3 linked regions of the Homo sapiens genome follow. The protein of the gene in region 3 purifies or fractionates together with the protein of the main gene of each other region. This does not show direct contact. Each region holds a gene or a part of one and is shown on either strand. Other genes may lie near its edges.

Region 1 (3,656 bases), on a different chromosome or scaffold from region 3:
TATGATGTTTCAGGAAGCATGTCACTTAGTGGAGATTGGATGTTTTGAAAAACATTATTTGCTTCATGCTACTTTTGGATCTCAAGTGTGTTTTATTTGACTCTTGAGCCTTTAGAGAACAAACCTTATTATTCTTTACTATATCAGATAGCCAAACTATTTAACCAAACTAGAATTGCTTTTAGTTGCATTTTCCTTGGTGACTGAGAGTTCCATATATTTTGTAAGTGTTTATACATAGAAGGAATGAATGTTTCTTAATGCAATGTTCTTTTCATTTTATCTGATTCCCTTCTGTCTCAGGTACAAACAGGTACTTCAGGCAAGTGGCATCTGAATTTGGATTAAAGATTTCTTTTGTTGATTGTTCCAAAATCAAATTACTAGAGGCAGCAATTACACCAGAAACCAAGGTAACTCAGCTCATTTTCAGTTTTGCCTGTTTTTCCTTCGATGTTTTGTTTTCATCATTTCTGTTTACTAGAGGATATAATTTAATGTGAATAACAAATTTTATTTTATGCCATTGGAAACATCAACAAAATTAAGATAGACTGTCATCTCCGGGGTGTTATAGCATAATGGTAGTACATGATTTCTGGAGTAGAATTCAAATTGTGATTCTGTTATCTTAGTTAGTATATTATCTTGGGCAAATTATTTAACCAAAGTCTCAGTTTCTTCATTTGCAAAATGGAGATAATTATACCGGTTTTATAGAAACGGGAGTGTGAGAATCAAATGAGATAATGAATATGAAATGCTTAGTATAGTTCCTGGATACATGGTAATTGTTAAAAAAATTTCTATGCAGGAGCACCTAATTTTTAACTGCATAGCCAAAAGAGTATTGGTAACAGAAGTCATCACAGAGATTGGACTATAGAAAAAGAAGCCTGCCAAACCCCCAAACTCGAAGCACAGTGGCTTTGCCGGGCTGTAAGGGATGCTGCCCAGATACTAGTTAGATGTGGAGAATAGGCCACAAGCAATCTTTAGCTTCCATCCTGGGAAATTTGTATGCCACCGGAAGGTGTTTTGTGTCTGAGTGAATGGCATATGTGATATTCTTTCTTGGGACCTTATTTAAATTCTGTGTGGATAAAAGAAGGACCAGTGTCTTTTATAAGTCAGCTGTTTACAACTTTTTGCTAATGATTAAAAGGTTAGAATTGTACCCAAGATTATGTTGCAATGAATGCTAAAAAATAAATATCTTTTCATGTACAAATAATTACTTTGCACATTAACATGGTTGAGCTTTTGGTAATTAAGGTTTGTTTCCAGAAGAACTTGTTTTTTATCTTGCTTGGGAGAAAAGTCACATTAAAATAGCTGGTCTGAGTCTTTTTTTTTTTTTTTTTTTTGAGACGGAGTCTCACCCTGTCACCCAGGCTGTAGTGCAATGGCGCAATCCCAGCTCACTGCAAGCTCTGCCTCTTGGGTTCAAATGATTCTCCTGCCTCAGCCTACCGAGTAGCTGGGATTACAGGCGCCCATCACCATGCTCAGCTAATTTTTGTATTTTTAGTAGAGATGGGGTTTCACCTTGTTGGCCAGGCTGATCTTGAACTCCTGACCTTGTGATCCGCCTGCCTCAGCCTCCCAAAGTGCTGCGATTACAGGCATGAGCCACCGTGCCGGGCCCTGGTCTGAATCTTTCTAAGGGAGGAAAGCAAATTATGAGTACAGTAAGTCTTGTCAACAGAATTTTATATAGTGACTCTACCAACTTGAATTAATACCTTTTCCTTCCTAAAATATCAGGTTTTTCACTTGAAGTAGAATGTTTAAGTCCATGTAAAACCTACTTTTTATTTATTTGGTAATTTTTATTTTTTTTATTATCAGTAGGAATAATAAATTCTTACCAGGAATAATTTTTATAGATTCTTTAAATAATTCAAGATTTTTGTAGAATATGTATTATTTAACCATCTTATCTTTTCCAGAGTAAAACTCTAAAGTCAGAAGAGTTTAAACCAGATCTCTTGCCCATTTAAATAACAGGTAATAAAAAAAGAATCAGCTGGGCACAGTGGCTCATGCCTGTAATACCAGCACTTTGGGAGGCTGAGGCAGGAGGATCACTTGAACCAGGAGTTCAAGATATATAGCGAGACCCTTTCTCTGCAAAAAAAAAAAAATAATAATAATAATTGGCCGAGCATGGTGGCACATGCCTGTAGTTCCAACTACTGGAGAGGCTGAGGTAGGAGGATCACTTGGGCCTGAAAGGTCGAAGCTGCCGTTAGCTGTGATCATGCCACTGCACTCTAGCCTGGGCAACAAAGTGAGACCCTGCTGCTTAAAAAAAAAAAAGAAAGTAATTCAGTACAATGGCATTTCGTTCAACAAATAGAATTCTTTTCTTTGGTCTTTTTGATAACTATCAAGCATCTACCATGTGTCTGAATTGTGGTAGGTTTTGAGATATAAAGGTCATTGTTACTTTTTAAGTAGGCGGTAACCACGTTTTCTGTTGTGGGTGTCACTTTTCTTCTTTAGTCTAAAGCCCATGCTCTTCAAGTCTTAGATACTTATTCTATAGTTTCTAGAGTTTCTGGCATTAAGTTCATATTAAATATATTTTTGGCATCATAGGGATAATTCTCTTTCATTAAAATTCTAGGATGTATTCTTACACAATCTATGTTATTCATCTCTGAGACAAAATTTCCAGACACTGAGCTGTCTTTGGAATACACTTTCTTTTTTAAGAAAAGTACAATAATTAACTTTAGTACTTTTCTGTTTACATGTACGTTATCTCACTTGATCTTTACAAAAAATTCTGTAAGATAGGTATTACCAACCCAATTATACAGATCAATAGGATACATTACATACCTACGGCTTCAGAAATTTGCAGGTAAGGCTGGGATTCAGATTTGAACCTCCCAACATCATCATCCATGTGTTTCCATTATACAATGTAGCTTCCCAGATTGTTACAATATATGAGATGTATGTTTGTAAAGTATATTTTTACAAACTACTGTTATTTGCTGAATTATTTTAGCTTGTTTGGATCGAAACCCCCACAAACCCCACCCAGAAGGTGATTGACATTGAAGGCTGTGCACATATTGTCCATAAGCATGGAGACATTATTTTGGTCGTGGATAACACTTTTATGTCACCATATTTCCAGGTAAATGAAAATAATTTTTTTTGGCACAATTAGTAGACCACATATATCTGTAATTAGGAAAGAAAGGACTTGCTTAAATTAAAATCATGATCAAATTCATGAAATCTAATCATAATTAATTATTTACTGGATCGAGAATTAAATTTGGACCTCTTCTACCATTAGTTAATATCTTTTCAAACCTATGTTAATATCCTCTATGTTACTTTGTGTTTTTTATTTATTAAAGCTTACCAGTTCTCAGGGCTGTGCGTGGTGGCTCACGCCTGTAATCCCAGCACTTTGGGAGGCCGAGGCGGGCGGATCAGGAGATCAGGGATCAAGACCATGGTGAAACCCCGTCTCTACTAAAAATACAAAAAATTAGCTGGGCGCAGTGGCGGGTGCCTGTAGTCCCAGCTACTCGGGAGGCTGAGGCAGGAGAATGGCATGAACCCGGGAGGCGGAGCTTGCAGTGAGCTGAGATGACGCCAGTGCACTCCAGCCTGGGTGACAGGGTGAG
Region 2 (3,071 bases), on a different chromosome or scaffold from region 3:
GGAGGGAGCACGGGCGGGAATCTGCAGCTGGAGCAGTCACAGGGTTTCCAACCACGACAAACACGCCTGCACCCCGCACGCACAGCCGGGCCCCAATGAGGGTTTCCATCAGCCCTTCCCTGGGAAAACTCTGCAGGCTTCTGGAAACATCCACACGGCTCTGGAGGACCTGGCTGTGGTCCCTGCCATGGCGCCGCTGGCACTCCCACGGCTGGTACGCAGCACCATGGCTGCTTTTACCCAGAAACGAGCAGCAGACTCACCGGGCGCCTCCCTCACAGCTGCCACCACGCTGGAGAAGGGCACTTTCCAACCAAAGCCACCACAGCAACTGTTAATGTCACCAAGGTTTCCCACTGCCAAGAGCAACGGTAAAATCTGTGCTCTTTTAACGGATGCCAGAAAATCTTTCACAACTGAGTCAAGAAAGGGGCTTAAAAACAGCGAGCGAATCTGAGGGCACCCAGGTTGATGGCCGTCCAACCAAAACAGTGCCGTGCGCCTGGGCACAAGTGAGGGATCCTTCCGAAAGCTTGCAATTATTACCACGCGGTTTTGAAGTAATTCATTTCATTAAGTGTTTTGTGAAGGACATAACCCCCCGGGACACACGAGAATGCCTCCGTTGGGACTGGAATCGCTGCCCACAAACAAACGGAGAAACAGTCAAAGGTGGCCTAAGACCTGGGAAATCAGGAGCAGTGGTCCACATACAAAATCAGGGCCAAAACGTTTTACTTTCCATTTGAATTTACAACCATATACAGACAATATGGTAAGATTTTAGAGAAAACAGATCATCACTACGAATATCCATATTCTGATTTCTTTTGAGAACCAAGGTGCCTTTTAAAATGCGGCTTTTTAGAATAGCATGTGTTGTTTCTGTCTGGGATCTAGATCTTGTCTGCTACAAAACAAATGAACACACCCTGTGTAACAAAATCGAATTTTAACATTTAAATCTTGATTCCAATATTCCTGACCTATCTCTTGTCATATGAAAGAAAGAAGCCTTTTTTTAAAACAAAGTTTCAATTCAGAATTTTTACAAACAAAAACAATCCTGCGTCTACTTAATATCCCTGTATATCCTCAAAAAGCAAGTTCAGGAAATTTAAAAATGATTTATAAAAGGCACTGAAGTTAGCAAAAGCATTGGTGGGTTTTCATTTTGGATTAAACACTGGAAATGTTCACAGAGAAACAACTGTGTGAGCAGTTGCCCGTAACACCCAGGAAGAAACCGACCTCCAGGCAGCACCTCCTGAACACCTCAGCGGCTCCTCACACATTCCAACCACAGACCTTCATTCAAGTCAAGGTGAAGGCTACAGTCAGCACGGCAAGAAACCAAGATGGGACTCAAACCTCTAAATGCAACACTCTGCATACAGGAGATCCCAACTGAAATGAGTTCCAAAATAACGGATACCTTTATCGTATAATCATTTATGCTCAACAAAGCCTCAGGATAAATTTGAAAACAGAACAATGTATAGACTGTATTACTGCTGCACTGGCTCCTGAATGAAGCAGGCGGTGAAGGCTCACGTGCTGAGGAAACAGGGAACACCTTGGCGCCGCTGCTGAGCTCTGTGTTGCTCCTGGTATCACTCCCACGGGCTGCAAGACTTCCCAAGAGAAAAGCTACTTTCATCTTCTGATCAGTAATTTAAATATTCCGAACAACCCAAATCACAATGGTTGCTGCAAGTCTGAGGCGCGCTCCTGGCTCCCTGATCCCTGCCGTCCACCTCCCTCTGTCTGAACCATGAGACCCACGGGCGAACCAACAGGCACTCTGCCACCATCAGATGCCACCCCCCAACCCAGGAAAAGACAGGGCGGCAAATAGTTCATCTTGGTGAGTGCAGGTTATCAAAGGGACATCGGTGCTCACGCCTCCGCCAAGCCCCTCCTCATCCACAGCGTCTGTCGGATGAGGTGAGTACAGGGTAAGTACAGGGCTGCCTGCCTGCAACTGCCTCAGCGCCCTTTCCTCTGCTATATTTCAGACCTAGAAATTGCCACCTAAAAAGTCTACCATTACCACATGGATATTTTCCAGAAAATTGGTAACTGAGTTTGCTTTCATTAACTTCTAACTTCTTCCAAAATATCAGAAATCTAAGTGTTATATAGAACATTTAAATCTTCTAAAATTCTCACACCCTCAAAGTGAGGAGTAATAATTTAATCAGAATATATTCCTTTTTGACAGTTTAGCAATAAACATATGACCCTTCCTTCTTTAAAAATGAAGAACAAACCGAGAGCCCAGCGCCAAGCCTACAGGGCGGCAAGCTCAGCCAGGCGCGCCATCCTGCGGAGCTGGCTCCCGTGCACGGGGCTGTAGCGCCCAGGACTGCCCAGGCCTGGCTTTGCGGGGTTGCTTCCAGCCACGCTGTTTCTCCCCGGACTGTAGCTGTGAGGGCCACTGAGATCTGGCAGCTGAGACTTGAACCTTCCTTTCACCGCGGGACTGGGCCAACTGCGGAAAGCAAGAAAGAACTGTTAGCAGACGGGCACAGGCCCGGAGATGAACAGCAAAAGTCGGAGAATAATGGCCCCAGACTCAGGCACATGCGCCCGGGCGGAGGAGAGGCACTGGTGAACCCTGGCACCGCGGGCACACACGCCCGGGTGGAAGAGACGCACTGCTGAACCCTGGCACCGCGGGCACACGCGCCCGGGCGGAGGAGACACACTGCTGAACCCTGGCACCGTGGGCACATGCGTCTGGGTGGAGGAGAGGCACTGCTGAACCCTGGCACCGCGGGCACTGGGAGAGTCAAGCTCATGGGGGTTTCCCGGAGAATCCTGTGTGATCTGAGTAGAAACCCTGCTGCTTCCACCCTTCTAGCCCTCAGCTTGTCAGGAGCTGACCCGTTCAGCTTTTCCACCCAACCAGAGCTCTGTCCTGTGTGCAGAGAGCCACAACACCCAAATCCACAGCCTGGCTGACGGGCCTGCCAGCGTTGGGAAAAGCCACTGATAGGTTCGCATGAAGTGGAACTGGACCCTGCAGAAGTTTCCAAAAGCTGCCCTGCGGGTGACAGGCTGTCCGG
Region 3 (3,656 bases):
GAAGATTGCTTGAGCCCAGGAATTTGAGACCAACCTGAGCAACATAGTGAGACACTGTCTGTAATTTTTAAAGAAATAGAAAATTTTAAAAATTAAAAAAAAATTTTTTTAAGTAGACAAGGGCGGTCCAATTTTACCAAACAGTTTAAGGGAAGAGGAGGTAGGAAAACCTAATTTCAGAGGTGACTTACAATCCCATTAGAGGGAAATTCAAGTGTTTGAGGTCTGGAGGGTAAAGAAGACGTGGTTAGAAAGGATACAGTTGTCAAGCTGAGGAGAGAACCTAAGCAGTCGGAGGCCATTGGAGATACTGGAACAACAAAAGCGTGATTTATATTTGAGTTTTTAGAACCAATGTGGAAGAGACATGGAGCAGGTGTACCAGCTGTGCCTTTGTAAGATCTGAAATGAGGGATGATAAGAACCTGAACTAGAGCAGAGTGTGATACTGGAGGGGAAGGAGAGTTCATGTAACACTGATTCCCCACATAGGGACGAAAACCATATTATTTTCACTGTGTTGTACTTTACTAAAGGATAACCATTTACAGTAGCAGCCATTTGGATATTTATATATTCTTAGGATCATGCTTTTTCACATAGACGTCATGAATCTCCCAGCCCAGAGGTTCACAAAGGCACAGAATGTTTCACTGGGGATGTCAGTTTTAATCAGAAGCAAATAATTTAAAACAATACTTTTGTAATAAACATGACAATATTTACCTAAAATTTTAGGCCCTAAAATGAGGCTTCAAAGAAGTTTTGTGTTTGGGCCATATCCTCAGTCCCTTCTGGGCAAAAGATTACCCTCTTCCACTGTTAGTAATACAGAAAATAGGAAAGCCAAAGACAAGTGTTACAGAGATGAAGATGTAACCTTTTGGGTGTGACAGACATATATATACAAACACACACATAGACACACAGATAATGTCAAAGTTTGTCCCAAGTGCATCTGAGGAGAGGTATCTGATCTTGCTCTTGGGCAGCCAGGGTACCTACTAGAAAAAGCTTTTGAGATGAGACAGTACCAGAGTAAGTCGACCAGATATGGAAGGAGATATTCTTAGGCATGATGGATTGAATTAAGGAGGCCTGAAATTTTGGGGCATGTTGGCAGCTGTGCCAGTTCCGTATGGTTGGAATGCAGAGTTTGGAGTGAGACTGGATCATAGAAGATCTTAAAAAAATTTAATTGCTGCTGTCCACAGAGGATGTGTGAAATAGTTTGTAGTAATTATTTCTCGTTAGAAAATGGTGGAGTGGAGCTCGATATGCTTTTCTTTTCTTTTTAATGTTTTTTAAAAATAGAGACTAGATCTCTATGTTTGCCTAGGCTTGGCTTAAATTCCCAGGCTCAAGTGGTCCTTTCACCTCAGCCACCCAAGTAACTGACATTACAGGTCCATACCACTACACCCAGCTCAGTATGCTTTTTCATGTTAAGGTTTTCCCATTCTTGGCAAAACCAGCTATTTGGTTTACCTGTACTTTATATTAGAGGTTGAATATTTTGATGTTCATAGGTGAGACAGATAATACAGATGAGTGAGGAGGCCTAGTGTGTCACACAGGAGATTGTTGACATCTAGAGGTTACTGACATCTAGAGTTAACCTTTTCAACTAAAACCATTCACCATGTTCTTTTTTTTTGTTTGTTTTTTTAAACATAGTTTGCCAAACAAAACATCTGTGGCCTGATTCCAAGGGCTACAAGTTTGCAATCTCTGATTTAAATTTCTTGGAGATTAGCACCATCTTATTTCCATTACATGTTAATACATTCTTCTTGTCATACACAAGCAATATTTAATTATAACACTGGAAATCTAAGATAGGCAAAGAAAAGGAATGAGGACCAAATTAGCCATAAACCTGGAAGGGTAGAAGTGTAGAATCTTATTTCTCATTTTTCTTTTCCATGTGCTGTGATAATCTACTTTCTATTTTTCAAGTCTTCATTTAGCAAATATGGAGTTCAAAGTGATGTGCTATATATATTTTTTTTAAAAATTACTAATTTGTAAGCATCACTGATTTTAAAGAAAATGCTATTTGTGCTATACAAAAATATATTTTTTAATTAAGAGTTAATTATCTTGGGATCCCTAAAGGGTTTTTGTTTCACCTCTGTCCAACAAGAGTAAAATTGTTAAAAGATGTGTTGCCAGTTCAAGCTTAAGACATGCATTTGAAGCTGTCTGCAAAACCTCATATATGGCAGTAGGGGGCACTCGTGCTAACTTAGCCAAAACTCTGAAATAAACCCAGAGCTTTTAATGTGCCAGAAAAATTAAAGTTTTTATTTTTTATTTTTTATTTTTTATTTTTTTATTTTGAGATGGAGTCTCGCTCTGTCACCCAGGCTAGAGTGCAGTGGCACGATCTTGCCTCATTGCAACCTCCACCTCCCGGGTTCAAGTGATTTTCCCACCTCACTCAGCCTCCCAAGTAGCTGGGACTACAGGCGCGCACCACTGCGCCTGGCTAATTTTTGTATTTGTAGTAGAGACAGGGTTTCACCAGTTAGCCAGGCTGGTCTCAAACTTCTGACCTCAGGTGATCCACCTGCCCCAGCCTCCCAAAGTGCTGGGATTGCAGGCGTGAGCCACCACGCCTGGCCTTAAGCTTTGATTTATTATCTTTAATATTTTTACAACTAGTTTATTAGAAGTAACTAATTGTACTTCAAACCTGTGGGTTTCTGCTTTGTTTTCATATAAAGATCAGTTTTTCTTAATAGTACTTGTCTTTCAGACAATTGGTGTGACCTTTGCAGCCATGGTTGGAGCTGGAATGCTGGTACGATCAATACCATATGACCAGAGCCCAGGCCCAAAGCATCTTGCTTGGTTGCTACATTCTGGTATGTTCTGTTTTAAATTGTTACGAGACAACCTTGACTACCACCTTTTTTGGGTGGCTCTTCACAGTTGTAAATGACCTACATGGAATTTAAGCCTCATGTTTAGAAAACACCATTTTCTTCAGTCATTACTGGCTGCATTATTGCCAGACCTTTGCTTTGAAAAGTTGATTTTGCTAAGACCATGGACATCTTCAATACGAAACTTGTATCTTCTGACAGTCTAGTATATGCAGAGATTTACTTTTGTGTATTTTGTTCGATACCAGGAGGGTTTTATATCTAGTACGCATCATTTGAGAGTTGTTTTTGTCTGGTATGTTTAGAAAAATTAAAAACTGAGGATAGAGAAAGTTGTGCTAAAAATGTTGCTGCGAAATAACAAAAAACTGAGAGGAGTCCTAATAGAAGTGTTCTGTGTAGAAATTTCACCCACTGTTTTGCCTAGAGCAAAAAGTATTTTTAAATTATTCATCATCATGAGATAGTATACCTTATTAACCATATAACTTGATCTAGAAATGTTATTCTTTAAGCTAGTATTGAAAATTCAGTATAAAGATAGCTTTGTGCCTAGTCTATGAGGTAAACGACATTTAAGAAAAAGGTAACTTATTCTTCTTAGCACTGAAATAATGCATTATCTAAGTTTTTTTTCAATTAAGGAGTTCCATTTACCTTTGTTGAATTACTGGTAAATTTTTTACGAAATTGTTTATAAATATCTGACAACTAAAATTACTTATTTATAAGCTGTTAGCAGTCCTTATTACATAAAGAAACAGC

The links.
Region 1: the proteins of GHITM (region 3) and CTH purify together in Homo sapiens (affinity purification with mass spectrometry; 2 studies listed by BioGRID and IntAct, with this or other methods). This does not show direct contact.
Region 2: the proteins of GHITM (region 3) and ANKLE2 purify together in Homo sapiens (affinity purification with mass spectrometry; 2 studies listed by BioGRID and IntAct, with this or other methods). This does not show direct contact.

Annotation. Positions count from the first base shown.
Region 1 is NC_000001.11:70,421,263-70,424,918, forward strand, and holds part of CTH (cystathionine gamma-lyase), read left to right. Parts: intron 1-303; coding exon 304-413; intron 414-1,871; exon of another isoform or gene 1,872-2,010; intron 2,011-3,022; coding exon 3,023-3,154; intron 3,155-3,656. UniProt on the Homo sapiens protein: Catalyzes the last step in the trans-sulfuration pathway from L-methionine to L-cysteine in a pyridoxal-5'-phosphate (PLP)-dependent manner, which consists on cleaving the L,L-cystathionine molecule into L-cysteine, ammonia and 2-oxobutanoate.
Region 2 is NC_000012.12:132,724,950-132,728,020, forward strand, and holds the end of ANKLE2 (ankyrin repeat and LEM domain-containing protein 2), read right to left. Parts: intron 2,495-3,071; coding exon 2,293-2,494; 3' UTR 554-2,292; downstream 1-553. UniProt on the Homo sapiens protein: Involved in mitotic nuclear envelope reassembly by promoting dephosphorylation of BAF/BANF1 during mitotic exit.
Region 3 is NC_000010.11:84,145,969-84,149,624, forward strand, and holds part of GHITM (growth hormone-inducible transmembrane protein), read left to right. Parts: intron 1-2,761; coding exon 2,762-2,870; intron 2,871-3,656. UniProt on the Homo sapiens protein: Plays an important role in maintenance of mitochondrial morphology and in mediating either calcium or potassium/proton antiport. Mediates proton-dependent calcium efflux from mitochondrion.